7 linked regions of the Homo sapiens genome follow. The protein of the gene in region 4 purifies or fractionates together with the protein of the main gene of each other region. This does not show direct contact. Each region holds a gene or a part of one and is shown on either strand. Other genes may lie near its edges.

The links.
Region 1: the proteins of MAU2 (region 4) and SLAIN2 purify together in Homo sapiens (affinity purification with mass spectrometry, with the first as the bait; one large-scale study listed by BioGRID). This does not show direct contact.
Region 2: the proteins of MAU2 (region 4) and POLDIP3 purify together in Homo sapiens (affinity purification with mass spectrometry, with the first as the bait; one large-scale study listed by BioGRID). This does not show direct contact.
Region 3: the proteins of MAU2 (region 4) and PALLD purify together in Homo sapiens (affinity purification with mass spectrometry, with the first as the bait; one large-scale study listed by BioGRID). This does not show direct contact.
Region 5: the proteins of MAU2 (region 4) and RFC2 purify together in Homo sapiens (affinity purification with mass spectrometry, with the first as the bait; one large-scale study listed by BioGRID). This does not show direct contact.
Region 6: the proteins of MAU2 (region 4) and ZDBF2 purify together in Homo sapiens (affinity purification with mass spectrometry, with the first as the bait; one large-scale study listed by BioGRID). This does not show direct contact.
Region 7: the proteins of MAU2 (region 4) and PRR12 purify together in Homo sapiens (affinity purification with mass spectrometry, with the first as the bait; one large-scale study listed by BioGRID). This does not show direct contact.

The regions. Positions count from the first base shown.
Region 1 is NC_000004.12:48,424,044-48,427,170, forward strand, and holds the end of SLAIN2 (SLAIN motif-containing protein 2), read left to right. Parts: 3' UTR 1-2,158; downstream 2,159-3,127.
Region 2 is NC_000022.11:42,607,945-42,611,984, forward strand, and holds part of POLDIP3 (polymerase delta-interacting protein 3), read right to left. Parts: exon of another isoform or gene 3,969-4,040; intron 1,019-3,968; exon of another isoform or gene 791-1,018; intron 1-790. UniProt on the Homo sapiens protein: Is involved in regulation of translation. Is preferentially associated with CBC-bound spliced mRNA-protein complexes during the pioneer round of mRNA translation. Contributes to enhanced translational efficiency of spliced over nonspliced mRNAs.
Region 3 is NC_000004.12:168,506,859-168,510,898, forward strand, and holds part of PALLD (palladin), read left to right. Parts: intron 1-501; exon of another isoform or gene 502-718; coding exon of another isoform or gene 719-840; intron 841-4,040. UniProt on the Homo sapiens protein: Cytoskeletal protein required for organization of normal actin cytoskeleton. Roles in establishing cell morphology, motility, cell adhesion and cell-extracellular matrix interactions in a variety of cell types.
Region 4 is NC_000019.10:19,347,903-19,351,942, forward strand, and holds part of MAU2 (MAU2 chromatid cohesion factor homolog), read left to right. Parts: intron 1-986; coding exon 987-1,036; intron 1,037-1,252; coding exon 1,253-1,330; intron 1,331-1,422; coding exon 1,423-1,534; exon of another isoform or gene 1,535-1,539; intron 1,540-4,040. UniProt on the Homo sapiens protein: Plays an important role in the loading of the cohesin complex on to DNA. Forms a heterodimeric complex (also known as cohesin loading complex) with NIPBL/SCC2 which mediates the loading of the cohesin complex onto chromatin.
Region 5 is NC_000007.14:74,247,657-74,251,696, reverse strand, and holds part of RFC2 (replication factor C subunit 2), read left to right. Parts: intron 1-1,916; coding exon 1,917-1,958; intron 1,959-2,476; exon of another isoform or gene 2,477-2,578; coding exon 2,579-2,685; intron 2,686-4,040.
Region 6 is NC_000002.12:206,301,817-206,305,856, forward strand, and holds part of ZDBF2 (DBF4-type zinc finger-containing protein 2), read left to right. Parts: intron 1-2,900; coding exon 2,901-4,040.
Region 7 is NC_000019.10:49,589,765-49,594,521, forward strand, and holds the start of PRR12 (proline-rich protein 12), read left to right. Parts: upstream 1-1,417; 5' UTR 1,418-1,890; coding exon 1,891-1,976; intron 1,977-3,562; coding exon 3,563-3,675; intron 3,676-4,689; coding exon 4,690-4,757. Other genes in the region: PRRG2 (transmembrane gamma-carboxyglutamic acid protein 2 isoform 1 precursor), read left to right, coding at 136-288, 607-625.

The sequences.
Region 1 (3,127 bases), on a different chromosome or scaffold from region 4:
GAAACATATTACATTTTTTAAGTTAGATAATCAGTTTCAAAAGGAGTATTCAGGTTATTTAACTTTGTTTTTAAATGGCTGCATCAGAAAAAAATGTCTATTTTTTTTTATTAAAATATTTCATCACTTGTTAAAACATATTTTTGATCTGAGTTTGGTAAAGTATTATTTTACCTGCTGTTGTACTACCACAGACTGTTGACTTTTAGTTTCTTAAAGAGAAAAATTGCCTTTTTACTAGAAAGCCTTTGTATATTGCAATTTTTCTGTTTGGGAAAATCTAAGGATTTACTGTGGTTAGTCTTACAGAAGAAATGTGGATTTGATAAACTAGTGCCTATGATTTTAACTTATGTTTGATATATAGTAGTAAGGGTTTTATGAATGTTGATTATTTTGTGCCAACAGCCCAGAATTGTCACTTATATGTAAGCAGAAAACAATGAGCTCTGCTTCCAAAGTTATTTAATTTTCTCAGTGTTTGAATGTTATTTTTTGTAAGTGTGTTAATAAAAGTGTAAAGAATTGGAAAAAATATAAATATTCTTAACTCAAGCATTTGCTGGATCATTTTTCTACAAAACTTGTTTGTACAATATAAAACACTCTCTGAAGAGTTGACTTTTTTTCAGTTTCGTATCCTGGAAATCACATTTTGTAAAACTGGGGACCATTCATAATTGTCAGATACTTTTTAAAATTATCTCAATACATCACTTTTATAAAAAAAAAAAGTTTTTTTGAAAGAAAATTAGATACATATGTGGCCCCAGATGTTTGTATAACTCTAGAATGATCTAGACTATGTATGTTTAAATTAACTTTTTATTGAATGTACAGGTGTCCATTTTTGACGTTAAGCATGGTCCTTTAAGGTCACATGACGTTTGATTTGCAAACATTTCTATAGCCGAACTTGTATATGTGGTTGCCTCCTTAATAAACAGCCTGACCATAATGTTTATTATTAAATTTATATTCTTTAAGTGTTTAATTAATCTCTGGATATGGTAAGATTCCTTTTTTCCTCTCAGTTGCCTACACTTGGTTTTAATAAATTACTCAGTTGAGTTTTTCTTTAACCACAGAAACCCAAATCATATTGCCCTTTCAGATTTAGTCTTCATGGGGTTGGATTATGTCTTATATTTTCTCTGTCAGAGTTATTTCATATATGGATTTTACTTGAAGGAAATTTACAGTTTACTCTAAATTGATTTGTTCTTGGAACTTTTTTACCTGCTGTGAATTGATACCTAGTTATAAAAAGCTAGCATTTGCCTAGATCATAACTATGTATGGTATCTAGTTAGAAAAAAACAAGCAAAAAGCTATTATGAGTTTCCAAGAGGGACAATTAATGCATTTTCATACCAAATGCGAATATTTAGGTGATCACGTGCATCTTTTCTTGTATGGATGGAAAAATCAAGAATTGTACACTGTTTAATGAGTTCTCCATATTCCTTTAGGAGATATTTGCTTTGCAATTACATGTTACAATTAGAATAATTACAATTAAAATAATATTACATGTTACAATTAGATTAATAGTGATGAGAGGGAAAAAAGACACCCTTCTGTTTTTTTCTCTCAAGCCAGTCTAAAAACTTGAAGAGCCATTTAAAATTAAATGTCACTATACTTGTATTATAAATCAATACATAAGTTTAAACCTGTTATATACTCAGTGCAACAGAAAAACCCATATGGAGGTTCAACCACTGATGTATTTTGAATGATCCTAAATATAAGTCTTGGGTGGCTAAATGGCCCTCTGCTTACCAGTCTGAAAATGAAACCGATTATACTCATCGGCCTTATTTACTGTAATACAAACTGGTTAAAACTATGTTAACTGAATGCTAGTTTGAAACAAATTATCTACATTAAGTCATCTTAATGTTTTCTCTTTAAAAGAAATAAAAAAATCTGTTTCTTCTGATTTCGAAAGTAATAGAAACTCTGCTGTAGAACATAAACTAAAAATATTAAAAAGTATAAAGGTAAAAAATGATAGTTGTCTGCAATCCCATAATCCGGAAATATTGAAGTACTGTCCGTAACATGGTTATGACATGTTAAGTGGAAGGGTAGAAGGTCTTTTTTTTTTTAAGGAGAAAATGTTTCTTTTAAATAAATGTTTCTTATGTAAAAATGTTGACATGAGTTTGCTTTTGCACAGAAGTATACATTAACTGCTATTGAAAGCTTGGCATATATCTTAATTCCTGATTTTAGATATTTCTTGATAAAACTATCGTATGTATTGTTTGTATTGTTTATAACATTAATTGGTTTTTTACAATTTATACTTTTTTTTTTTTTTTAAACAGTCTTGCTCTGTTGCTCAAGCTGGTGGAGTGCAGTGGCATGATCTCGGCTCACTGCAACCTCTGCCTCCCAGGTTCAAGCAATTTCCCTGTCTCAGCCTCCCAAGTTGCTGGGACTACAGGCACATGCCACCATGCCCAGCTAATTTTTGTATTTTTAGTAGAGACCGGGTTTCACCATGTTTGTCAGGCTGGTCTCAAACTCCTGACTTCATGTGATCCACCCACTGTTGTACCTGCTGTTGTATTTTTTACCTGCTGTTGTACTACCATAGACTATTGACTTTTAGTTTCCTAAAGAGAAAAACTTTCTTTTTTTTTTTATGAGATGGGGTCTCACTATTTTGCCCAGGATGGTCTCGAACTCCTGGGCTCATGCGATTCTCCCGCCTCAGCCTCCCAAAGTGCTGGGATTACAGACATGAGCCACCACGCCTAGCCTCTATACATATTGAAATTTGAGAAATATATAATAAATTATAAAGAAGAAAAAGTACCTAATTCAATAGGTAGTCAGCCACTTAAATTTGAAGATAATGTCTTTGTTTCTTTTTCCTTCTAAAATTGTAATCATATGCTTGACAGTAACTTTTTCTGAAGTCTGAATTCATGACTACCATGATGTAGATGGATTCTGCTGCTACAAAAAAAAGCCATTTAGTTCTGGAAAGAGTTTATAAATATTCTAAAACTTTGCCAAACTATATTATTGTAGTCCTTCGTATCGTATCCTTTGTTGATACTTGAATGCCCCCCACCACCACCCCTGCCTCCCATCTACCATGAATTGACAG
Region 2 (4,040 bases), on a different chromosome or scaffold from region 4:
GCCCCCGCACAGCCAGCCGCCCTGTTCGGGAGGTGGGGGGCGCCTCCACCCAGCCACCACCCCGTCTGGGAAGTGAGGAGCCCCTCTGCCCGGCCGCCACCCCGTCTGGGAGGTGTACCCAACAGCTCATTGAGAACGGGCCATGAAGACGATGGCGGTTTTGTCGAATAGAAAAGGGGGAAATGTGGGGAAAAGAGAGATCAGATTGTTACTGTGTCTGTGTAGAAAGAAGTAGACGTGGGAGACTTCATTTTGTTCTGTACTAAGAAAAATTCTTCTGCCTTGGGATGCTGTTAATCTATAACCTTACCCCCCCCCCCAAAAAAAAATTAGCTGCAAGTGATGATGCACATCTGTAGTCCCAGCTACTCAGAAGGCCAAGGCAGGAGGATCAACTAAGCCCAGGAGGTCCAGGCTGCAGTGAGCCAAGATCACACCACTGGACTCCAGCCTGGGAGACAGAACAAGACCCTGTCTCAAAAATCAAAACAAAACAAAACAAAAAAAAACCACCACCACCAAAACAAAAAGAAACAATCTTCCTTATCATTATTGTCTGGTATTTCAGTTTCAATATGTTGTTAAACCCTTAAAAATTTATACATATATATAAAGGAAGGATAAACAGTCCGCAGGCTGAAGAAATCTTAGGACTCCGGTCATGCCCAGGGATACGGAGCACTCTCTAGCGACCAAAGGGTGAGCACAAGCAGCGAGGCGAGCGGGTGGTGCACGCACTGAGAACTCGCATACCACAATGCCTGCCTGGCAGGAAGGACCACCAAGATGCTTTGTGCTGGCATTTTTATCTATTTGAACAGCCTAAAAGGCACATTTAGGGGTGGGAGTTAACGGTAGTTGAGGATGTAGTAGGAGCTCCTCACGGTGGGAGGGAGTAAGCTATTTCCCTCAATCTGATGCACTCAGTTCCCTGGTTCCACCAGTGCTTTCAACTTCTTTCGTGAACAGCTTGAGGGGGCTTCAGTGTTCAGGCTTTTTATAATCACAGCTGCTCTTCCTGCATGAAAAGACAGCTATTCATCCCAGCAGGCAGCAGTACTGGTTTCAGGCAGGCATTAGTCATCGGAAATTTTTCAAATCAACACTCCTGCCAGGGGTAGGTCTCTAAAACACAGACTCAATTATGTTACCCTCCCGCTTCTAGAACTGCTGGGGGCTCCTTTACAAAGCCCAACCCCTGGGGGGGCCTCGGCTCTGGCTCCAGCTTATGGCTGCAGCCTTACTCCCCACTGCAGTGACTACTGACGTTCCCAAAACACATCCTGCACTTTTATCCTCAGTAAATGTTTGGGAGGGCGAAGGAGGAAGGTTTTGACTGAGTCTCGTAATGCCCCACCTCCATCGCACCGAAACTACAGCTCTGCAACTGCTTCCAGGGCTTCACCAGGTATTCCGCGAGGTCCTGGCAAGAGCGCTGCTGGCAGGTGAGAAGGCAAACGTTCCCTGGACCCCAAATTCTCTCCTCTATACCCCCTACGGGAACCTGGCATAGGTGTGATGACCAGGGAGGGTCTGTCTGGGCTATAGGAATATTTCACCCTCCTGGCTCTGTCTGGGGAGGGCAGGGCTACAGCCCATTCTGGACAGATGTCCAGTCCAAAAGATTCAGGCCCATGAAGTGGGGCCCTGGATTATTATAAAGCAGATTTTAACCCATGGGTTTAAAATCCTCTGGGTTATGGGAGGCAGAGGTTGCCATGAGCCAAGATCGCACCACTGCACTCCAGCCTGGGTGACAGAGCAAGATTCCGTCTTATAAAAACAAACAAAAAAAGCTTCTGGGTTAGGGGGTGTTCGTTTAGGTGTGTGTTTAGGTCATTTTTATAGAGAGAAAACAGCTTAATTCTAACTATGACTGAGGGTCAACTCTGAATTAGGTGTTTAAGAGACACAAAGAAAAACAAGACACTAAAATACTATCCCCTGCTGGGCGAGGTGGCTCACGCCTGTAATCCCAAGCACTTTGGGAGGCTGAGATGGGCGGATCACTTGAGGTCAGGAGTTTGAGACCAGCCTGGCCAACATGGTGAAACCCTGTCTCTACTAAAAATACAAAAAATTAGCCGGGCGTAGTGGCCCATGCCTGTAGTCCCAGCTACTCAGGAGGCTGAGGCAGGAGAATCGTTTGAATCCAGGAGGTGGAGGTTTCGGTGAGCTGAGATCGCGCCATTGCACTCCAGCCTGGGCAGCAAGAGCAAAACTCTGTCTCAAAAATAAATAAATAAAATAAAATACTATCCCCTTACCCAAGAGTCTTGTGCAGATGTTTCATTTTAAAACATAATTCGTTCCCTAGAGTTATGTAATAACTCATTTCCTCCCTTTTGTGTTTAGGTCTTTATTTCCTTTATCTTATTTCAACAAGGAAACAAGCAGTCAGTACCAGGACCAGAGTCCTGGGCTGAACTGCAAAGTTTACAATCCACCCTGTCCCCCAACAACCTCCCACTTCCAGCTCCAAGGACTCCCCAGATGAGGCGTCTGGCCCAGAGAGCTGCTCAACTCCAGCCTCCAGCACATTCAAGGCTGCCACACTGAACTGCTTGGAGGCAGCTGACAGAAAGCTATCCGCTGAGGGTTAAACTCATCGAACTAACAAAAGCGGACATGTCAACTGACTTAACTGGGGATGCCCTCATATCTAAAGGAAGAAACTGCTGGGCACAGTGGCTCACACCTGTAACCCCAGCACTTTGTGAGGCAGAGGCAGGAGGACTGCTTGAGTCCAGGAGTTCGAAACCAGCCTGGGCAACATGGCGAGACCTTGTCTCTACAGAAAATACAAAAATAATTAGCCAGGCATGATGGCATATGCCTGTGGTCCCAGCTACCTGGTAGGCTGAGGCAGGAAGACTGCTTAAGCCCAGGAGGCAGAGGTTGGAGTGAGCTGTGATCTTGCCACTGCACTCCAGCCTGGATGACAGAGCAAGATCCTGTCTCAAATAAATAAAGGAAAAAACCAACATGAGGGGCAGGCCAGCACTGCAACTGGTACCTAATGCTATCCTGAGGAGACTCTCTACGGATCTTTCACAACTAAAGTCACTGGAGATGTGCTGTGGTGAGGAAAGATAGCACCTCACCATGGAGGAAGGTATCACTCAAAACCACCCTCTTCTGGTTCAATCATTTCCCATTAGTCAAGGAATCTTTTAATAATTAATTGGAGGCCTAGGTAATAATAATGGTAATGACTTTTTTCTTTCTTTTTTAAAGAGATGAGGTCTTGCTCCGTCAACCAGACTGGGGTGCAGTGGTGCAAGCATGGCTCACTGCAGCCTTGAACTCAGGCAATCCTCCTGCCTTAGCCTCCCACACAGCTGCAGTTACAGGCATGAGCAACCACTGCATCCAGCTATGACCCTTTTCTTGACTCACAAGGTGTGAGGAACACAAAACAGAATGGCTGCTTTTGAGAACAAGCACATTCCACAAATGTGATCCTTGGGATCACAGGAAACAAAGTGAGCAGAGTGGTGGGGAAAGAGGTTATTTACACTTCCACAAGCTGGATCTTTGGCTATTTCTACTAAGAGGAAAAAAGCTTTCTTAAACAACAAAATTCTTCCTGGAATATCCATGCAACATTAAAACCAAAGTTCCAAGTACGCAGATTCTTCTAGGCAGTATGTAAAATAGCATGTATGGCCAGGCACGGTGGCACTTTGGGAGGCTGAGACGGGTGGATCGTTTGAGGTCAGGAATTCAAGACCAGCCTGACCAACATGGTGAAACCCCACCTCTACTAAAAATACAAAAAAATTAACCAGGCGTGGTGGCGCATGCCTATGGTCCCAGCTACTTGGGAGGCTGAGGCAGGAGAATCGCTTGAACCTGGAAGCCAGAGGTTGCACTGAGCTGAGATCATGCCATTGCACTCCAGCCTGGGCAACAGAGTGAGACTCCATCTCAAAAAAAATAAAGAAATAAAATAAAAATAAACTTACTGCAGGAAATGACATCTGTTCATTGAATTTGTTCAGATCTTTCACATTATCTTAACAGGGACCACTGGATCT
Region 3 (4,040 bases), on a different chromosome or scaffold from region 4:
TCAAAAATCAAAAGGACATGTACTGCTTCCTGAGATATTTTCTTTCCCAGCTTCCACGATATCTAGCTTTTCTTGCTTCCCTGTGATTATTCGAAGGATTCTATCTTCTCCTTCTTTTTTCCTCGATGACCTTATGCATTCCCATGTCTTAAAGTGCCACCCATAGGCTAATAATCCCCAATCCAGCTCTGTTCTCCCTTCTCCTGGGCTCTAGATCAGCATCTCAAATCTCCTAGACATCAACACCAGAGTTACCAAAGGTCCCTCAACTGCAAAAGGCTCAAATCAAAATCAAGCTTAAAAAATAAAATAAAATAAAATAAAAAAACTTGTTCCTCCACTTGTAGCATGTAAGTTAATGGTACCAGTCATCTGGTTGTTGAGGTGAGAAACCTGTAACCCTGCCTCTGCATCACCTCTGCCTTTAATCAATTACCAAGTTCTTTCCTTTCTATCATCTATCTTATGGACCCTGGACCCACTGCTTCCCTGAATCACCAGCTCTCACTTCAGAGTCCAAGAAGGACACATCTAATCGCTGTCTAGGCCAAGTGCCAAGACTTGTGCCCAGTCTCCAAGCGGCTGGGAAAGAAAATACTTGGAGATTTCACATCCCATTACAAGTGAGTTCAGTTTCTCACTGAGCCTCAGAATATGAGGAATTCTCCAAAATGAAGACGTCCAGATGACAGCAACACCAAACGTGAAACCATGATAAATGTGTGCACCCCCTGGATTACTGCACAAGCCTTCTCACGGACCGCCCTACTGTCAGTCTTGTCTTCCTCTTTCCCTACCTCTGTCCCGGATCCAGACTGCAATCAGTTATCTCTCAAAAATGTAAGTCTGGTGATGTTTCTCAAGGACTTAACACTCTTCCTTGCCTACTGACTACCCATAACATAAAATGCAAGTTCTCTGCATGGCTCCAGGCCCTCTCTGACCTAACTCCTGCTTTCTAGCCTTATCTCTGGTTATTTTCCCATCTCCAGATAGATTTCTGTTTAGCTGAAATGCTTAGTAGAATTACCTGAGTCTGCCATGTGCTCTCTGGGATCCAAGTCTTAAAATACATATTTGCCAGTATCCTCTTCACCTCCCCGCTCTTCCTCATCCCTCACACATCATTCTTTCAGCTTTCTCTCTTTCACAAAGGTTTCCTGATCCTGACCTTGCTGTTGCTTCTAGGTGCTATCACAGCACTTTGTTTTTCTATACCACTGCAGGATGACTATAGCTAACAATAACATACTCTATAGTTTCAAATGGCTAGAAGGAAGATGTTGAATGTTCCCAACACAAAGAAATCATAAATGTTAGAGATGAATATGCTAGTTGCCCTGATCTGATCACTATAAATTGTACGTATTGAAACATCACTAGGTACCCCATAATTATGTATAATTATTATTTGTCAATTTAAAAAATAAAATACAATTTAAAAAAAGACATACTCAATTATATAAGCTTATTATTTAGTTGTAATTTGTATTAAGTTCCATGAGGGCAAAAACCTTCTCTTTTTCAAGGTCATATCCCCGTCCCTAGCGCACTACCAGGCATGTGGTAGATAGTCCATAAATACACTTCGAGTGGGTAATTCTGGTCCATGTAGTACATCTATCCCAGCTTAGGCTTCACAATTTCGTCATGTCAAGAATCAAAGGTTTTGTTGCAATTATTTCCTTGGATTTTCAGCTTAATCTACCACAGGTTTGGTTGACACAAAATGTTTTTCAATCTCCTTTAGCACTGATTTCAACACAAAAACTGAATTTCTTTCAGGCCATAATAAATAAATAAATAACAAATAAAAAACACAGTAGCTTTCTTTCAAAGAAAAATAAATTTTACAAGAAATGCAATAAATGAAAATATAGTCTGTTGTGCCTTTGGTACACAAACCTACTTTCAGCCCCCGAGTCTCCCCCTCTCCACCTTCATGTCTCTTCTGGATCCATGTTACCTAATGGCTCATCTCCCCACACCTTGTAAGAGTTGATCCTGATCCTGGCTTCCCCTAAAGTTATCTACCATGTGTGCTGACTGAGGGGCCAATTGTACTTCAGAGCTCATTACTGAGAGAAACCAGGCTGCCTTGGTAGGACAAACTATAAAACGTTTTGCAATATACAAAATGGTACTGGGTGTCCTTGCAATAGACACCCAGTACCATTGCTGGATTGGCTCTGGTGGACGTTCCAGGGTCATCTAATTCCACAGGGGTCTATGCCTTTTATTGTCTTTACAATTTTACAACTCTGTAAGTTGGAAAAATCTAAAAACAATGCAAATTATACTGGTGCATAGATATACAAATGATTTTTTTTCTAGTAGAAATGCTATAGTTTTCCACTCTTATGATTCCAAACATTGTATTTTATTGCTCTATAGATATTAACCAGTTTCAAATCTATTACCAACTTCATATCAGCATGCCTGATTGCCTACATGTGTCTCATCTTCAGCGTCTCCTTTGAAATAATTGTAATATATTACTGATTTTTTCAATTGTTAAATAAAAGCTCAAATACATGTTATTTGATTTTTATATATTACTATACCTTTGCCTTTTCAAAATCATACTTTAACTGCCTGTTTCTCATGAAGAAAATACATTCAAGTATTAAAAATACACTGAATATAATTGTTCCTCATATACGAGCCATATCTGAATAACTGGAGACCAGTCAGGATGTTTCTATCCTGCAGCACAGACTGGACAAAGGAATTAGAGTGATATTTGGGTTAGTAAAGTCAGGGAGAATGATGACACCCTCTGAAGGATTAAGGATTTACTTGAAGAAGAGTGCGAAATATGGTTCAGTAGATAGAGTAGGGCTAGCATGTGGTGAATCTAATAATTCAGGCACAAAAAAAGTAACTATCTTTCTAAGAAGACATGTAAGACAAAAGTACAGTATTCCACTTAAGAAGATGGGGTATGTTAACATTGAGTTTCAGGATCTCTGATTAACTACCCTCTGTTAAACAGCAGGTCTATGACTCACTGCATCCAGTGAAGCAGTAGGCTCTTGAGCTGGATTTCTACAACCCCCTCGACTCTTGCATAATGTATTTTGAAATTAGAGATTTTCTTAGATGGGAAGATACTTCTACGCAAGCAACTCAATTCAGTCCTCTGAAGACACACCATTTCTGGGGAATGTCCCACCAAGTTTACTCCTGACTGACACAAGGTAGAAAGTTGAGGTTCACCACATCCAGGAAGCTTCCATTATTCACTCCTAGACTCAGTCTTGTGGCAGACATCACCGCTGATGTTTTCTAGATCGTCCCTCTCAGTACTCTATGAACAATATATAGCAAAAGAATGGCACACTTAGAGTAACAAGGAGTCATTGCTTCACAATATAAAGTTCAAAATGTCAGTGGAATTTAAAGCTGTAATAGCTTACAGATAATGAAATACCTTTTATTTAATTCTGCTGATATTCCCATGTAAGTGTTCTATGCCAGGCCTCTAGTTATCTCATGCCCTTTAAGATTAGATTAGACTCTCATAGCCCCCAGGTTTTTCTCACTTTCCTTAAAAGCCTTATCAAAATTTTATATTATTAACATATTATTTGTTTAATATCTTCTCTATCTCCTCCACTTTACTACCTCCCATGACTTTTAACTCCTTGAACATGATAACTGTGCTGTAAGTCTGGATGAAGGGTCAGCAAATTTCAGCCCCTGAGCCAAATCCATCCCAACCCTTTTTGTATGCCCTGCAAACTAAGAATGTTTTTCTCATTTTAAAACTATTGTTTAAAAATTAAATATCAAAATAATAATAGTTTTAACACATTAAAATGATATAAAATTCAAATATGAGTGTCCATAAAGTTTTATTGGCACACAGTCATGCTCATTCATTTCCATCATCTTTGGCTGGTTTCATGCTCATGCAGAGTTGAGTAATTATAATAGAGGCTGAACAGCTCACAAAGTCAAGAGTATCTACCATCTGGCCCTTTCCAGAAAAGTTTGCCCATCCCTGGCATACAGCACAGCTGTACTTCCAGCACCTG
Region 4 (4,040 bases):
AGCCCCGGGATCCCCTCCTCAGCCCCGGGATCCCCTCCTCAGCCCTGGGATCCCCCTCAGCTCTGGGATTCCCTCCTCAGCCCTGGGATGCCCACTCAGCCCTGGGATCCCCCTCAGCCCTAGGATGTCCCTCAGTTCTAGTATCTCCTTCACCTCTGGGGGTCTACCTCCAAAGTGTATCAGGCCAGGTGCTTGGCTCACACCTGTAATCCCAGCACTTTGGGAAGCAAGGCAGGAGGATCACTTGAGGTCAGGAGTTCAAGACCAGCCTGGGCAACATAGGGAGACCCCCATTTCTACAAAAAAATTTTTTAAAAACTTGGTGGGGTGCAGGCCTGTGGTCCCAACTACTCGGGAGACTGAGGCAGGAGGATTGCTTGAGCTAGGGAGATTGAGGGCTGCAGTGAGCCATGATCCAGCCACTGCACTCCAGCCTGGGCGACAGAGCAAGAACCTGTCTCAAAGGAAAAAGAAAGCCCAGCCCCGGCTTAGTCATCCGATGCCATACGTGGGCTCGCAGTGTTGAGGAGGAGTTTGGCTCCCCTGTGCCTCTGCAGCTAGAGGGCAGCTAAATTATCAGTCAGATCACGCCCCCATCAGAGCCTCCCGGGGTCCCTGCACCTCCAGAGAAATCCCACCCACTCACCCCCACAGCCCACAGGGCTCACGGGCCCCAGCCTGCCAACCTACCCACTGCCAGGCCAGCCCCTCAGCACCACTCTGACCATACAAAGGCCTTCTGGACGCCCAGGCCCCTGTCACCTACTGCAGGACAGGGTGGCACAGGCAGGGCTGGCTGAGGGTGTGGAAATCTTGCCCCCGGCCCTTCTCACCAGAGGCTGCTCTTGCTGGTCAGTCACCAGGCTCAGCCTGGAGGCCACAGTCCCGACGGGGGTGTAGAGAAATTCCCATGCACTGCAGTGTGTCTTGGGGACCTTTCTCCTGTGAAGATGCAGAATGGTGCTGACTGGCTCTTTCCCCCGCAGCTCTACAGTCTGCTGGAGAGGATCAACCCGGACCACAGCTTCCCTGTCAGGTGAGCCGCTCCAGGCACCACTCCACGCACGGCCTAGGCTCCCCGTGCTCTTTGGTTGGGGCCCCTGACTGCCCCTTGCACCCTGACACCCCATACCCCTCCTCACAGACAGTCTGCAGTGGGGGCTCTCAGAAATAGCCCCCAGCTGCCCACTGCCGTTTTGTAAACCTGCTTCTCAAAATCACCACCCCATGTGATACTGCACTCTCCCTGCAGCTCGCACTGCCTCCGAGCAGCCGCCTTCTATGTGCGTGGGCTCTTCTCCTTCTTCCAGGGACGCTACAACGAGGCCAAGTAAGTGTGGGGCAGAGGGTGGCGTGAGGGCCATGCTCAGGGTAGCCCAGGCCCCGTCCTGCAGTTATCAGCGTCCATGTTCTCCTTGTCAGGCGATTTCTGCGGGAAACTCTGAAGATGTCCAATGCTGAGGACCTGAACCGGCTCACAGCCTGCTCCCTCGTGCTTCTGGGCCACATCTTCTATGTGCTGGGAAACCACAGGGTGAGTGCCCTGGCCTGGGCCCCTCGCTTGGGTGCCTGTGGGGCTTGGCTGAGGGACAGGAGCCGGCCAGCACCCTAAGGGTGGCATGGCACTGTTCATCCTATGCCCCTCGAAGAGCACGTCTAGGTGGATGCCCTGACTCCCACAGCCTGGGCAGGCAGGGCCAGAGGAGCTGGGCACCCACAGAGGGTGTGGGGGGAAGGCAGGAGGCCTGATGGGTGTGGCCTCAGACATTGGGCAGGCAGAGCCCCAGGGCTCAGGGGAGCTGAAGCCAGAACCAAAGGAGCTGCCCTGAGCTACTGGGGATGACGCAGCCACCCCATGCTATGTGTTGACACCTGAGGGGCAGAGAGGTGTCTCCTCTCAGCCGGACTTCCAAACATATCATCCTTGGCCAACACAGTGTCCTCTCAGGGTACAAGTGGCCCCTGGGATTGGTCCCCACCCAAGGTCAGCCAGTCTCTGGTGGGACTGGCCGCCTCAGTCCTTCCTGTCAATTCCTCGCCTACTCTCACCCACTGATCTCACGAGGTCTTGAATTTTTTTTTTTTTTTTTTTTTTTTAAGAAGATATTTTGGGCAGGCACAATGGCTCACGCCTGTAATCCCAGCACTTTGGGAGGCCAAGGCGGGCAGATCACCTGAGGTCAGGAGTTCAAGACCAGCCTAGCCAACATAGTGAAACCCTGTCTCTTACTAAAAATACAAAAATTAGTGGGGCGTGGTGGTGGACGCCTGTAATCCAAGCTACTCGGGAGGCTGAGGCATGAGAATCACTTGAACCCAGGAGGCAGAGGTTGCATTGAACGGAGATCATGCCGCTGCACTCCAGCCTGGGCAACAGAGTGAGACTCTGTCTCAGAAAAAAAAAAAAAAGATGTTTTTGGGACAGGCACGGTGGCTCATGCCTGTAATCCCAGCACTTTGGGAGGCTGAGGTGGGCAGATCACTTGAGGTCAAGAGTTCAAGACCAGCCTGGTCAACATGGTGAAACCTCATCTCTACTGAAAATACAAAAATTAGCCAGGTGTGGTGGCACACATCTGTACTCCCAGCTATTCTGGAGGCTGAGACAGGAGAATTGCTTGAACCCAGGAGGCAGAGAGGTTGCAGTAAGCCGAGGTCGTGTCATTGTACTCCATCCAGCCTAGGTGAGAGCAAGACTCCATCTCAAAAAAAAAAAGGCCGGGCATGGTGGCTCACGCCTGTAATCCCAGCACTTTGGGAGGCCAAGGCGGGCAGATCACAAGGTCAGGAGATCGAGACCATCCTGGCTAACACGGTGAAACCCCGTCTCTACTAAAAATACAAAAAATTAGCCGGGCATGGTGGCAGGCGCCTGTAGTCCCAGCTATTTGGGAGGCTGAGGCAGGAGAATGGCATGAACCAGGAAGGCGGAGCTTGCAGTGAGCCGAGATCCCACCACTGCACTCCAGCCTGGGCAACACAGCAAGACTCCATCTCAAAAAAAAAAAAAAAGATATTTTTGGCCAGGCACAGTGGCTCATTGCTTGTATCCCTTTGGGAGGTGGATGGGGGAGAATCCCTTGATCCCAGGAGTTCAAGACCACCAGCCTGGGCAACCTAGTGAGACCCTCTTTTTTTTTAATTTAATTTTATTTTTTGAGGCCGAGTCTCACTCCGTCACCCAAGTTGGAGCGCAGTGGCATGATCTCAGCTCAGCTCGTGGTAACCTTCACCCCCTGTAGGCTCAAGTGATCCTCCCACCTCAGCCTCCCAAGTAGCTGGGGCCACAGGTGTGTGCCACCATGCTCAGCTAATTTTTTTATTTTTGGTAGAGACTGGGTCTCCATGTTACCCAGACTGGTCTTGAACTCCTGAGCTCAAGCGATCCACCCACTTCAGCCTCCCAAAGTGCTAGATTACAGCATGACCCACTGTGCCTGGCCCTAGAGATGCTATCTCTTAAAAAAAAAAAAAAGATATTTTCCAGCCAGACACAGTGGCTCAGGCCTGTAATCCCAACACTTTGGGAGGCAGAGGTGGAAGGATCATTTGAGCGCAGGAATTCAATATCAGCCTGACCAACATAGTAGATCTGAGATCCCATCTCTACAAAAACCAAACAAAAAAATTAGCTGGGTGTGTGGACTCATGCTTGTGGTCCCAGCTAATTGGGAGGCTGAGGTGGGAGGATCACTTGAGCCCAGGAGGTTGAGGCTGCAGTGAGCTGTGATCATGTTACTGCACTCCAGCCTGGACAACACAGTGAGATCCGTCTCAAAAAAAAAAAGTTATTTTTCTAGATTATAAAATATGACATGTTCATAATTAAAAGGCTGAGAAGCAAAACAGAAAAAAATTGCATGTCTCTGTCATCCATCCCTTCCCACTGCCCACGTCTCCCACGTGGAGGTTTTGCTTGTCAGCCTGTTTGGTAATTTTTTTTTTTTTTTTTTTTTTTTTTTTTGAGATGAAGTCTTGCTCTCTTGCCCAGGCTGGAGTGTAGTGGTGTGATCTCGGCTCACTGCAACCTCTACCTCCCA
Region 5 (4,040 bases), on a different chromosome or scaffold from region 4:
CCTCCCCAGTAGCTGGGACTACAGGCACACGCCACCACGCCTGGCTAATTTTTTTATTTTTAGTAGAGATGGGGTTTCACCGTGTTGGCCAGGCTGGTCTTGAACTCCTGACCTCGTGATCCGCCTGCCTCGGCCTCCCAAAGTGCTGGGATTACAGGCGTGAGCCACCACGAGCGGCCTTGAGTAGGTTTTTAAAAGATGACCTAAGGCTGGGCACAGTGGCTTACACCTGTAATCCCAGCACCTTGGGAGGCTAAGGCGGGCAGATTACTTGAGGCCAGGTGTTTGAGATCAGCCTGGGCAATGTGGTGAAACCAGTCTCTACGAAAAAATTTAAGAATGAGCTGGGTGTGGTGGCACATGCCTGTAGAGTCTGAGGTTCAAACTGGGCATGGTGACAAGTGCCTGTAATCCCAGCTACTCGAGGCCAAGGCAGGAGGATCCCTTGAGCCCAGGAGTTTGACGCTGCAGTGAGCTATGATCACGCCACTGCACTCTAGCCTAGGTGACAGAGTGGACACCCTTACTTTGAGAAACAAAAAGAGTTTGGGCTTCATAGTGAGGGCAGGGAGGAGTCAAGGATTTCAGTTAGGGAAAAATGTTTTAATAGGGCCGGGTGTGGTGGCTCACACCTGTAATCCCAGCACTTTGGGAGGCCAAGGCGAGTGGATCACCTAAGGTCAGGAGTTCACGACCAGCCTGGCCAACATGGCAAAACCCCGTCTCTACTAAAAATAAAAATTAGGCAGGCATGGTGGTGGGCGTCTGTAATCCCAGCTACTCAGGAGGCTGAGGCAGGAGAATCGCTTGAACCCGGGAGGCGGAGGTTGCAGTGAGCCGAGATTGTGCCATTGTACTCCAGCCTGGGCAACAAGAGCAAAGCTCCATCTCAAAAAAAAAAATGTTTTAATAGGTGTGTACTTTAGGAAAGTGGTCGTGGTTACAGGATGGGAAATGGATTTGAATGGGAGCATGGAGACCACTTAATGGCCCATTGATAGCAATCAGACGAGATAATGGGCTTAAGAAAGTGGTAGCCGGGATGGAGAGAAGGGATGGAGAGAAGTAAAGGACGCTGGAGACGAAGGAGGAGGATGGTGAAGCCCTGGTTATTGAAGTACTCAGGGTGAGGATGAGGCCAAACCAAGATGATGGCAACCTCAACTTCATGGCATAGACAGTCCATGGTGGGAAACATGGGTGGGGCCTCAGGTTTGTACAGGAGAATGAAGTGTTCAGTTTTGAAGATGCCGAGGTGAGTACCTGTAGTCCCAGCTACTCGGGAGGCCAAAGCAGGAGGATCACTTGAGCCTGGGAATTGGAGGCTGCGGTGAGCCTTGATCACACCACTGCACTCCAGCCTGGGTGACAGCCAGAGTGCATCTCTAAAAGAATAAAAAGAACTTGAGGTGAGAGTTCCATGGGGCATCCAGTCCATGTGGATAAATTTGTAGCCACGTTTACTACACAGGCTGTGTAGCTGGGGAGATTCAGCTCCTAAAGCTTACAAATTAACCAGGTTTTGTGTTTTTTTTTTTTTGTTTTTGAGACAGGGTCCCACTCTTTCCCAGGCTGGAGTGCAGTGGTGCAGTCACAGCTCACTGCGGCCTCCACTTCTCAGGCTCAACCGATCCTCCCATTTTAGCCTCCCGAGTAGCTGGGAGTACAGGAGCACACCACCACACCTGGCTAATTTTGTTTATTTTTTGAGGAGACAGAGTCTCACTGTGTTGCCCAGGCTGGCCTCAGGCCTCAAGTGATTGTCCTGCCTTGGCCTCCCAAACTGCTAGGATTACAGGCCTGAGCCATTGTGCTCAGCCGAGTTTTAACCTGCTTGTTTGTTCTTTTTTCTATCTTTTTTATGTAGTCATCCAGAAGCAAGTTTTAACCGGTTTTAATGATCATTTTCGCCGTAGGTCTTTGCAAGGGAAGGAAATGTGCCCAACATCATCATTGCGGTGAGTACCCAGCCCTGGGCCTGTTGAGTGTCTCCATGTCTCATCCCACTGTCCGCTGAACTGCTTTCTTGTGCACAGCGCTGCCTCCCTGGAGAGCCCCTTCCCATTCCCCCGGCAAAGGGAAGTGTTTCACTCTAGTTGGGAGGCCTGGGGTTGGTTGCTGTATTTTTTTTTATTTATTTATTTATTTTTTTTTCTGAAACGGAGTCTCACTCTGTCACCCAGGCTAGAGTGCAGTGGTGCAATCTCTGCTCACCGCAACCTCTCCCTCCCAGGTTCAAGCGATTCTTGTACCTCAGCCTCCCGACTAGCTGGGATTACAGGTGCCTGCCATCACGCCCAGCTAAGTTTTGTATTTTTAGTAGAGACGGGGTTTCGCCATGTTGGCCAGTCTGGTCTTGAACTCCTGACCTCAGGTGATCTGCCCGCCTTGGCCTCCCAAAGTGCTGGGATTATAGGTGTGAGCCACTGTCTCCGGCCAGCTGTATTGATCTGTGTGTGCTGTGGGTGGAATGCAGGGGTCAGAGGTGACGGAGATGCAAACAGCAGTGAACATAACTCAAGAGCTACCTGAGGTCCTTCTGGTGGTTTGAAGTCTTTACTGGAGATCTCATTCCCAGGGCCCTCCAGGAACCGGCAAGACCACAAGCATTCTGTGCTTGGCCCGGGCCCTGCTGGGCCCAGCACTCAAAGATGCCATGTTGGAACTCAATGCTTCAAATGACAGGTAGGTCTTAGAGTCAGACCTGTAGGGGGGCGGGTGCTCTGCATTGAGAATTGTTACAGAAACAACCTTTCTCAGCATTGGGTTGTATGCGAAGCCTTGCCAGCTATGTGATTTCCTCCACCCCTTCCCAGTGAAAGAGCGTTGCTCACTTGTCAACTTGCCGGTTTATTTTTTTTGTTTTCATGGAAATTTTCAAAAACTGTTCTTCTCAGCCAGGCATGGTGGCTCACACCTGTAATTCCAGCACTTTGGGAGGCCGAGGCAGGTAGATCACCTGAGGTCAGGAATTCGAGACCATCCTAGCCAACATGGTGAAACCCCGTCTCCACTAAAAATACAAAACTTAGCTGGGCGTGGTGCTGGGTGCCTGTAATCCCAGCTACTCAGGAGGTTGAGGCAGGAGGATTGCTTGAACCCAGGAGAAGGAGGTTACAGTGAGCTGAGATCGCACCGTTGAGCACTCCAGCCTGGGTGACGAGCAAAACTCCATCTCCAAAAAAAAAAAACCAACTAGTTTTTCTCTTTTTTCAAGTTTAAAAATTTTTGTAGAGATGGGATCTCACTATGTTGCCCAGGCTGATCTCAAACCCTTAGCCTCAAGCAATCCTCCTGCCTTGGCCTGCTAAGTTGCTAGGACTATAGACACATGCCACCATGCCAGCTTTTTCTTGTGGAGACGGGATCTCACTATGTTGCCCAGTCTGGTCTCGAACTCCGGGACTCAAGCGATCCTCCTTGCATCAGCCTCCCAAAGTGCTTGGATTACAGACGTGAGCCACTACACTGGGATGTTCAACCAGTAAATATAATGCAAAATTCCAAAATGTGAAAAAAAAACCCAGATCTGAAATATTTCTGGTCCCAAGCATTAGGGATAAGGGATACTCAGCCTGTATATTTAAAGTGTATGGAAGGCCGGCCAGGCATGGTGGTTCATGCCTATAATCCCAGCACTTTGGGAGGCTGAGGCAGGTGGATCGCTTGAGTCCAGGAGTTTGAGACCAGCCTAGGTGACATAATGAAACCCCATCTCTGTATAAAAGTAAAAATAAAGTGTTCTGGAGGATGTGTATAAGTTAATATGCAAATACTATACCATTTCATATAAGGGACTTGAGCAAAAGTGAATTTTGGTGTCTGAGGAAGGGCCTAGCACCAGTCCCCAGGAACACCAAGGGACAGCTGCATATTGTTCACTCCTTGATTCTTCAGTTAGGGAAAATGTCTGGAGGATATTGGCATCTGAAGATTCATAGTCTGAGATTTTGCTTATTGATCAATTTCACCATCAGTAGCATTTAGAATGTTGCTATTGGTGTCTCTGCAGTTCTGTACTGTTCTGTTCTGTTCTTTTC
Region 6 (4,040 bases), on a different chromosome or scaffold from region 4:
GGGGCAATTTGGTTGTTATCTTTTTCGTCTTAAATTGGGTGCCCAGTTGTATTTATGAATTCTTTTCTTAATGGAAGTATTTAAAAATATGATGTTTTTATTTTGGCCATATCTCATAGTTTTTATTTCTTTTAGATAATTTAAAAAATGTTTTTTTTTTTTAGCTCAAGAGTTTTTCTTTTTAGCTCAAGAGTTTAGCTGTTTTTTGTTCGTTTGTAGGTCTCACTCTGTGGCCCAGGCTGGAGTGCAGGGTGTGATTATAGCTCACTGTAGTCTCAAAGTCCTGGGCTCAAGTGATCCTCCTGCTTCAGCCTCTTGAGTATCTGGGACTATAGACATGTACCACCATGCCTGGCTTATTTTTTAAATTTTTTGTAGAAACAGGATCTCATTATGTTGCCAAGGCTGGTCTCAAACTCTTGGCCTCAAGTGATCCTCTCACTTGAGTCTTCCAAAGTGGGGGGATTACAGGCATGAACCACCACACCTGGCCAAAAGAGTGGTTTTTAATCTTTAATGGTTAGATTTTTAGAGAGCTTTTTTTGTTGTTGTGTGGTTACAAATGATGAGTTAAATGTGGATTATGATTTAATTGTTAAGCATATTATACACACACAAATACAGATGCAGATCAAAGCATCCAGATGGCAGTTCATGACCTTCTTGGGATTTTACCAGCTGTATGATTTTATGATTATACCTTCTTTTCTTTTTTCCCTTTTCTTTCTTTTCTTAGCTACATATTGCACAATTGGTTTTATTTTGAGAATGTTGTGATAGTCCTTAAGACAAATGAAGATAGTTTAGGGTTCTGAAAAACTAGAGTGAAGTGATTGTTGCACTGCAGTGTCATTGTTGAGAAGTATGAAAAATTAGAATTGTTTTTTGCTGCATCACAATACTTTTGATGCAGGGTTAACTTTATTTTCTAAATTCAAAATTAATATTAAGGTAATAAATTTATATGGGATAGTAATACTTAGGCTAAAATGAAATTGCATATGGCTGACACATGTATGCATGTTCTCTTAGACAAATGACATCTCAAATTGGAAAAATTCAATAAATTTTTAGGTGTTTATTTTTAATTGTTATAGGCTATTTTTATAAACAAACAGTTTTAGATTAATGGAAACAATGAGGAAATAGTACAGAGTGTGCCTATAATACTCTCTCACACAATTTCTCTATTATTAACATTAATGTGATATATTTGTTATAAGTAATGAACTGATATTAGTACAGTCCATGGTTTATTCAGACTTCTTAGTTTCTACTTAAACTAAGTTTTCTTAAACTAAGATTTCCTTAGTTTTACTACTTTTTCTGTTTCAGAATCACATCCAGGATACCACATTACATTAACTTGTAATGTCTCTTTAGGTCCCTCTTGGCTGTGACAGTTTAATCTTTTTTTTTTTTTTTTTAAACAGGTCTAGATGTGATGATACTTATCTCTTTGAATTGTTATTATTTTTTATGTGTCTGCCTTCTGCAGCTACTTGAATGGTCTTTAAAAGGCAGCTTAACTTTTTTTGAATTTGCCTTAGTACCTAGCATAGTGCCTGTAATGCAGTAGTAAGTCCTTAGTAGATGGTTGTTACATGAATGAATGTTTGCCCGACTTTAAGAATTCAGGCCATGGCAATATCATTAGGTCAGTTGGTTTTATGTACATGAAAGAACAGTCCCTGAAATGCTTTGGTCAAACATGTTGTCTTGATACTGGTAGAAGAGATTCATAGACTGATTTTAGATATGAAAGTTTTGGGTCTTTTTAAAAATAATGGAATTTAAATTTTGAATGGGAAATACATATACATAGACATAATTCACAGTGCACGTTCAAAAGTAAGTCTTCTTAAATTGCTGCCATCCTGTAGTCACTTCCCTAGAGGTAACACTTGACACCTCTAGACTTCTACAGTTGTATGTGCCATTCTCCAGATATTCTAAGTGCATTATTTTTTTCCCTTCTATTTTACATAAATGGTAGCTTTCTGTGTACCCTTGCTTTTCACTAACAATGTTTATAGTAATTGGTTTTTATTTGTATATATAGAGCCGCTTTATTATTTTTAAAAACCACATTGTATTCCATTAAATACCATTAATTATTTAACCAGTACCCAGTTACTGAGTATTCAGGTTGATTCTAGTCATTTGCTATTACCCCTCCCTCCGCTCAAAAGTAGCAGTAACTATTCTTGTACGTGTTCATTAAACACATGAGAAAACCAAAAGTGGAATTAGAGGTCAAAGGGTATGTACATTCTTAATTTTAATAGACATTGCCAAATTGCTGTTTGTAGAGGTTACAAATCTACATAGAGGTTAACCAGTAACTGTTAACTGATCTATATTCCTATGAACAATGTATTAAAGTGCCTTTGTCCTTACACCCGCACCAAAACAATGTGTTAAGATAATAATAGCTAACATTTGTGAATGCTTACTGTGTGCCAAGCTGTTTCTTTGTTTTAATGCTCTTTACATGTAACAATTAATTTACTCATCAAAACAATCTCATGAGGGAAAATAGTGTAAGATTCCCTTTTTTTGGAGGCAGAAACTGAAGCATACAAAGTTAAGTAACATATGTCAAACTTTTTGCTATTTACTACTCTGATAACTGAAAAATAATATATGATTTTATTTGTTTAGTTTTTCATGTTTAGGGGCCATTTGTATTTAAGTAGCAATTGGTGGAGCCACCTCCACCTTCTGCAGTAATTCCCCCTCTGTGGTCCATGCAGTGTTCAGCCTGGGGTGACTGCCTGGATTCCTTGTCCTTTAAGGATAGTCCAGAACAGAAAGCAAATAACATTTATTATGCCTCTATTTTAATATTTTAAACAGACATTAGAATATGTTTATGAGTTTCCCCCCTTTCGTTTTAGTTCAACACAAGATGAGACACATGTGAATACTGGGTCATCGTCTGAAGTGGTGCATTTGGATGATGCTTTTTCTGAAGAAGAGGAAGAGGATGAGGATAAGGTTGAGGATGAGGATGCTACCGAAGAGAGACCATCCGAGGTTTCAGAACCTATTGAAGAGTTACATTCCAGACCTCATAAATCTCAGGAAGGCACGCAGGAGGTTTCAGTTCGACCATCAGTTATTCAAAAACTGGAGAAGGGACAGCAGCAGCCCTTGGAGTTTGTTCATAAAATTGGGGCCAGTGTGAGAAAATGTAACCTAGTAGATATTGGTCAGGCTACAAATAATAGAAGCAACTTGGTACGCCCCCCAGTGATTTGTAATGCTCCTGCTAGTTGTTTACCTGAAAGCTCTAACGATAGACCAGTTACAGCTAATACAACTAGTTTACCACCAGCAGCTCATTTGGATTCAGTTAGCAAATGTGACCCAAACAAAGTTGAGAAATATCTTGAACAGCCAGATGGGGCCTCTAGAAATCCTGTGCCATCATCCCATGTAGAAACTACTTCATTTTCGTATCAGAAACATAAAGAATCAAATAGGAAATCTTTACGCATGAATTCAGATAAGTTGGTTTTGTGGAAAGATGTAAAATCTCAGGGTAAAACTTTATCAGCTGGCTTGAAATTCCATGAACGCATGGGTACTAAGGGCTCCTTAAGAGTTAAATCTCCTTCCAAATTAGCAGTAAACCCGAATAAAACTGACATGCCTTCTAATAAAGGAATCTTTGAAGATACTATTGCAAAGAACCATGAGGAATTCTTTTCTAACATGGATTGTACCCAAGAAGAAAAGCATTTGGTTTTTAACAAGACAGCCTTTTGGGAACAGAAGTGCTCAGTGAGTTCTGAAATGAAGTTTGATTGTATCTCTCTTCAGTCAGCATCTGATCAGCCCCAAGAGACTGCACAAGACTTAAGTCTTTGGAAGGAGGAGCAAATTGACCAAGAAGATAACTATGAGTCTAGAGGTTCAGAAATGAGTTTTGATTGCAGTTCCTCTTTTCATTCACTGACTGACCAATCTAAAGTGAGTGCCAAAGAAGTAAACCTTTCCAAGGAAGTACGTACTGATGTACAGTATAAGAATAA
Region 7 (4,757 bases), about 30 Mb from region 4:
TTTTCTGAAGTCCACCTCCCTTCCAGCTCTGTCCCAGTGTCACCCTGAGTCTCCGTCTCCTAGATCCCCTCTCTTCCTCCCTAGTCTAGGTATCCTGTAAGTTGCCTCTGCTAACTGTACCTTTGCTGTCCCCAGGGCCGGGCTCATTAGCCCTCTGAGTCCTTTGAACCCTCTGGGCCCACCGACGCCCCTGCCTCCACCCCCACCCCCACCCCCAGGCCTCCCCACCTATGAGCAGGCGCTGGCAGCCTCTGGGGTACACGACGCACCTCCACCCCCCTACACCAGGTATGGGGCGTGGCTTCTGCCCGGGGGCGGGGCGCAGAGGGGTGGGCACGTTGGAGGAGGAACCTGGGCTCAGGGGCGGGACTTGGAATTTGGGCCTTCTTACCTGGGGCGGGGCTTGGAGTGCGGGGGCGGGGCCCCATGCAATGGTCTAGGGGCGTGGCCCAGCGTTGTATGTGTGGAGCCGTATAGGAGGGTGGGGCCTGTGCCCAGAGGGTCCTGGATTGGCTGAGACGCCAAGGGCGGTCGGAGTGGTCCTGGTTGAAGGGGGGAGAAAAACAGCCAGATCTTTGACTCCCTAGTGTGCCTTTCCTCTTGCAGCCTCAGGAGGCCTCACTGAAGAGCTGCTTTCGAGACCCGGCTCTCCGAACCGTGCCCCTGATTCATACCGGATTCCGGAAGCCGCTAGGCCTCATAGACGCCGAAGCTGGACTTGGAGTGGGGAATGGTGGGAGTAGGGGTCATCCGGCCCGAGGCCTGCCCTGGCACACGCGTTTCCGCCGCGTATGGATATACACATGTTTTCGGCAACGTGTTCCCGTGTCCTGGCCCCTCACGGGCCCCCACACTCTCCTGACCGTGAGGGCACTGGTCAGTTCCGCCCCCGTGGTAGGCAGACGCGCGGGGAAATTCGGACCCAGGAGCCCAGCCCCGGCTGTGCCATCTTGTGTATGGGCAGATATGACCTGACAGCCCCCTCCAGTGCCACAGGGTACGCACACGCAGAGCCCCGCCTGTGCACACGCGTGTCTTCGTGCACTCCCCGTGCGGTACAGGGGCACTTCGTAACCCAGGGAAAGGGCGGGGGGCATATTTGCAAGCGCGCTCGGTGCGGGCAGGCTCGCATTGCACCCAGGGAGCTGGAGTTGAGCTGTTCCCCTAAATAAAAACCCTTCGGAAAGGAGACCAAAAAAAGCAGAAATAATGCAAAAAATAATAATGAAATGAACTGCGATCCCGGGCGCATCGGAACTGGTTTTCTGTGCAAACGCGCCCTACACCCCCAGGCCCTGCTCGCGCTCAGTCTCTCTCTCACTCTCCCTTTTTTTTTTTTTTTTTTTGCATTTGCACGGGATTGTGGGAGGAAGCGGAGCGCAGCCAGACACCCCGCCGCCCGCCCCCCCTTCCCCTCCCCCCTCCCCCAGCCGCCTTGTGCAAAGATGGCTGCACCGTGAGCGCAGAGGAGGAGGAGGCGGCGGCGGCGGCGGCGAGAGAGCGAGCACCCAGCGCCTGCACCCACCCCGGGGCCGCCCGGGACGCCCCCTCCCGAGCGCGCGCCCCCCCTTTTCTCTCGCAAGCGCCGGGGCAAAGGCGGAGACAGCGGGGTCCCTCCTCCCCCCTTCCCTCCTCTAGGGGGAACCCCCCTTCCCCCTTCCTTGGCTCAGCGACTGCACCCCCTCCCTTGCCCGCCCCTCCGCCCCTGCCCCCTCCCTCCCCCGCCCGGGGCCTTCCCGGGCCTTCGGCGGCTGCAAAGAAAAAAAGAGAGAGAGAAAAGGGGGGAAAAAAAAGCAGCAGCGGAGGGAGCGGCGGCGGAGGAGAGCGCGCGCGCGCCCCCTCCCTCCCTCCCTCCCTCCCCCTCCCCCCAATTTCCACCGCGGCCAATTCATGGACAGGAACTACCCCAGCGCCGGCTTCGGGGACCCGCTCGGCGCCGGGGCGGGATGGAGTTACGAGAGGTCAGCGAAAGCTAGGTAAGGAGCTGAGGGTGGCCTAGAGAAGGGGGCCAAGGGGTGGGAGCCCAGCCGGGCCGGGCCGGGCCGGGCCGGGCCCGCCCGGCGACGCGTGCATCGCAAACTCCCCTCCGGCTTGCAAGGGAGCGGCCTTCCTCGGTTTGTAACAACGCCGCCGCCCCAGTTTGCAAATTGCAAACTCCGCCAAAGCCAGCTCCGGCATGCAAAGGGAGAATTGCAGCGGGAAAATGGGGGTGCAAAACAATTTCGGACGGGAAGGCCTTGGGAAGGTGGGAGGGACTGGCGAAGCAAGGCCTGGACTTCCCCCCATCCTTGGATTCCCGGCTTGGTGACCCCTCCCCCCCGCGCCCCAGGCACTGCTCTTGCAAAGGTGGGAAGAAGAGAAGAATTAGAACGCAGATCTGGGGGGCGCGAACCCCCTCTCAGGTCCTATTGTTCCGGGACTGTGCGAGGCCGCGCCACTAGGCGCCCCCCCAAGAATTCCGCGCGCAGAGTGGGCACGGGGCCCCGCCCCCTTCCTAAGCTGGGGTTGTGTGTGTGTAAGGGAGGGGGTCAGGCGTCTGGGACACGCCCCCTTTAATGCCCCCACCCCCAAAGGCAGAGAATCCTAGTTGATCGCAAGGAGTGGAGCGTTTGCCCTCTTGAGTCTGGCCACGGACTGGTGCCGTTGCATGGGAAGAGTCGGATGTTTCCCGGGTGTGTGTTTGTGTGTCTGAGCGTGGGCCCTGTGCGTGCGTGGCTGGCAGCGTGTTCACCTGTGAATCTGCCCCTTTCCTGTTGCTTATTGGTGTGGCGCCCTCACACTTCACCTATCCCCAGCACCTCCCCCCCAACACACCTGGATTTCCCAGCAGGGCATAACCCCAAGTGTGTCAGGATTTTCCGTGTGGGATTCCTCCGTCTATATCTTTTCTTCCCCACGGGTGAGTTGGATACCCGTTTGCACACATACCTGGCATTGCATGGGCCCATGCATTTGAACCTCAACCCCCGGGGATGGTCGGTGTTCTTGTTCACACTTGTACCTGGTACTTTCCCCAGGTCTTATTCCCTCTTCTCTCCACCCCCCAAACCGTTGCCGCTTGGGAACCGATCTTCCTCCTGCTCCCAACTTGTTCTGCACCACCCCATGAAGTTCAGGGCCTATGTGTTCCCGTGTGTCTACGGAAGAGGAGGCGTCCATGTGGACCTCTGGCGTTGGCCCCATAGCCTGTGTCGCCGGAACGGGGGCTGGGGGGGGTTTGTGGGGTCGACGGGGGAGGGCTCTCATTTGCAAATCAAGACGCTTGCTCTGCCTTGGACCCTCTTCTGTGTGTTAGTCTCGTCTCTGAGCATGCCTGTTTGTAAACGTGAGACTATCCGGGCTCTCTTTATTCGGGCTCTGGAGTGGGGGCCATTTCTGTGGCTCTTTAGTTGAGCACCCCGATTCCCTTGTGTTCTCCCCTTTAGGGCCTACGGTTCCTTAGCTTAACACCCCCCACCCCGGTCAGCTGGAAGGGTCCCCCCAACTCCCCGGGGGGTTTTCTGAGCTTCCTTCTCAGAAGGCAGCTTGGAAGAACCCCCTGACGTCTCCCCTTTCCCCCCAGCTTGGTTTATGGCAGCTCCAGGACCTCGCACCCCGAGACGGACATCTTACACCGCCAGGCCTATGCGGCCCCCCACCCACTGCAAAGCTATGCCACCAACCACCACCCGGCAGGTACGGCCCCCATCCCGCCCCGCTTTGGGCTGGCCCTCCCCCTCCCCCCGAGGCAGCTGATTGGCTGTTGAAAGTTCCGCCCCTCCTAATTGGCCGTGGCCCGTGCCGTGGCCCGCCCCTTGCTGTGTCTCCTCTGATTGGTTGCCTTTGAGGCTGCTGGTCGCTGCTTCATTTCTCGCCGGATTCGTCCGCCCCTGCCTCGCCCCTCCCCTTTCGCTCCAATTGGCCCTGTTACCATCAGCCCCCAAATCCCACCTTCTCTTCCAGGCTTTTCCGCCTCTCCCCAACCCACCCCAATTCTTTCCCTCTGGGTTTGCCCTATTCTTTTGGCTCTTTGGAACTCTGAATTCTTTCTTCCTGATTCCCTTTCTTCCTGATTGGCTCTAATTCTCTGGCCCGCCCTGTTTTATCTTATTTTGCCCCATTGCCTTATTCTACCCACCTTGCCTTTGCCTCCAAGGTTTCTGATTGGTTCCCTCTTCCTAGGGGTACTGGTAATGACATGATGCTGTCCAGTTTGACCCTTGACCCTCCTGATTGGCTCCTTCCCTTTTTCCCTCCCCATCTTTTTTTCTGAACCCTCCCACTTAGCTCAATCCTTTCTGACACGTTCTCTGGTCTTTCTTAGACTTCATTGTCCCATCCTTTCCTCTTCCTTGCTGGAAATATCCAAATTTGGTCTCCCTCCCAGCCTTACTGAGGACTCTGTTCTTTTGCTCCTGGCTCTTTCGCTTCTAGATTTTTCTACACTTTTGTCTACCATTTCCTACCTGGGCCCCCTGTCCTTATGACTGGATTGCCCCTTGTCTTGCTTTACTGTCTCACCTTTCCCCCTTCCCTCCCCTCATTCATGTCTCATTAGCTTGGTTCTATCCATCTTGTTTTTGAATTTGCCCTTTTCTCTCCCATCCCCTCCTTTTCCTGATCCAACTTGCTTTTGGCCTCTTCCCTTTCTCTCTTGACTGTATCCTACCCACCCCCACCTGGCTGACTATAACCCCTGTCCCCGGCCAGGCCTCTCTGGACTCTTCGACACTGGCCTCCACCACGCGGGCTCAGCAGGGCCCGACGCCTCCGTCATG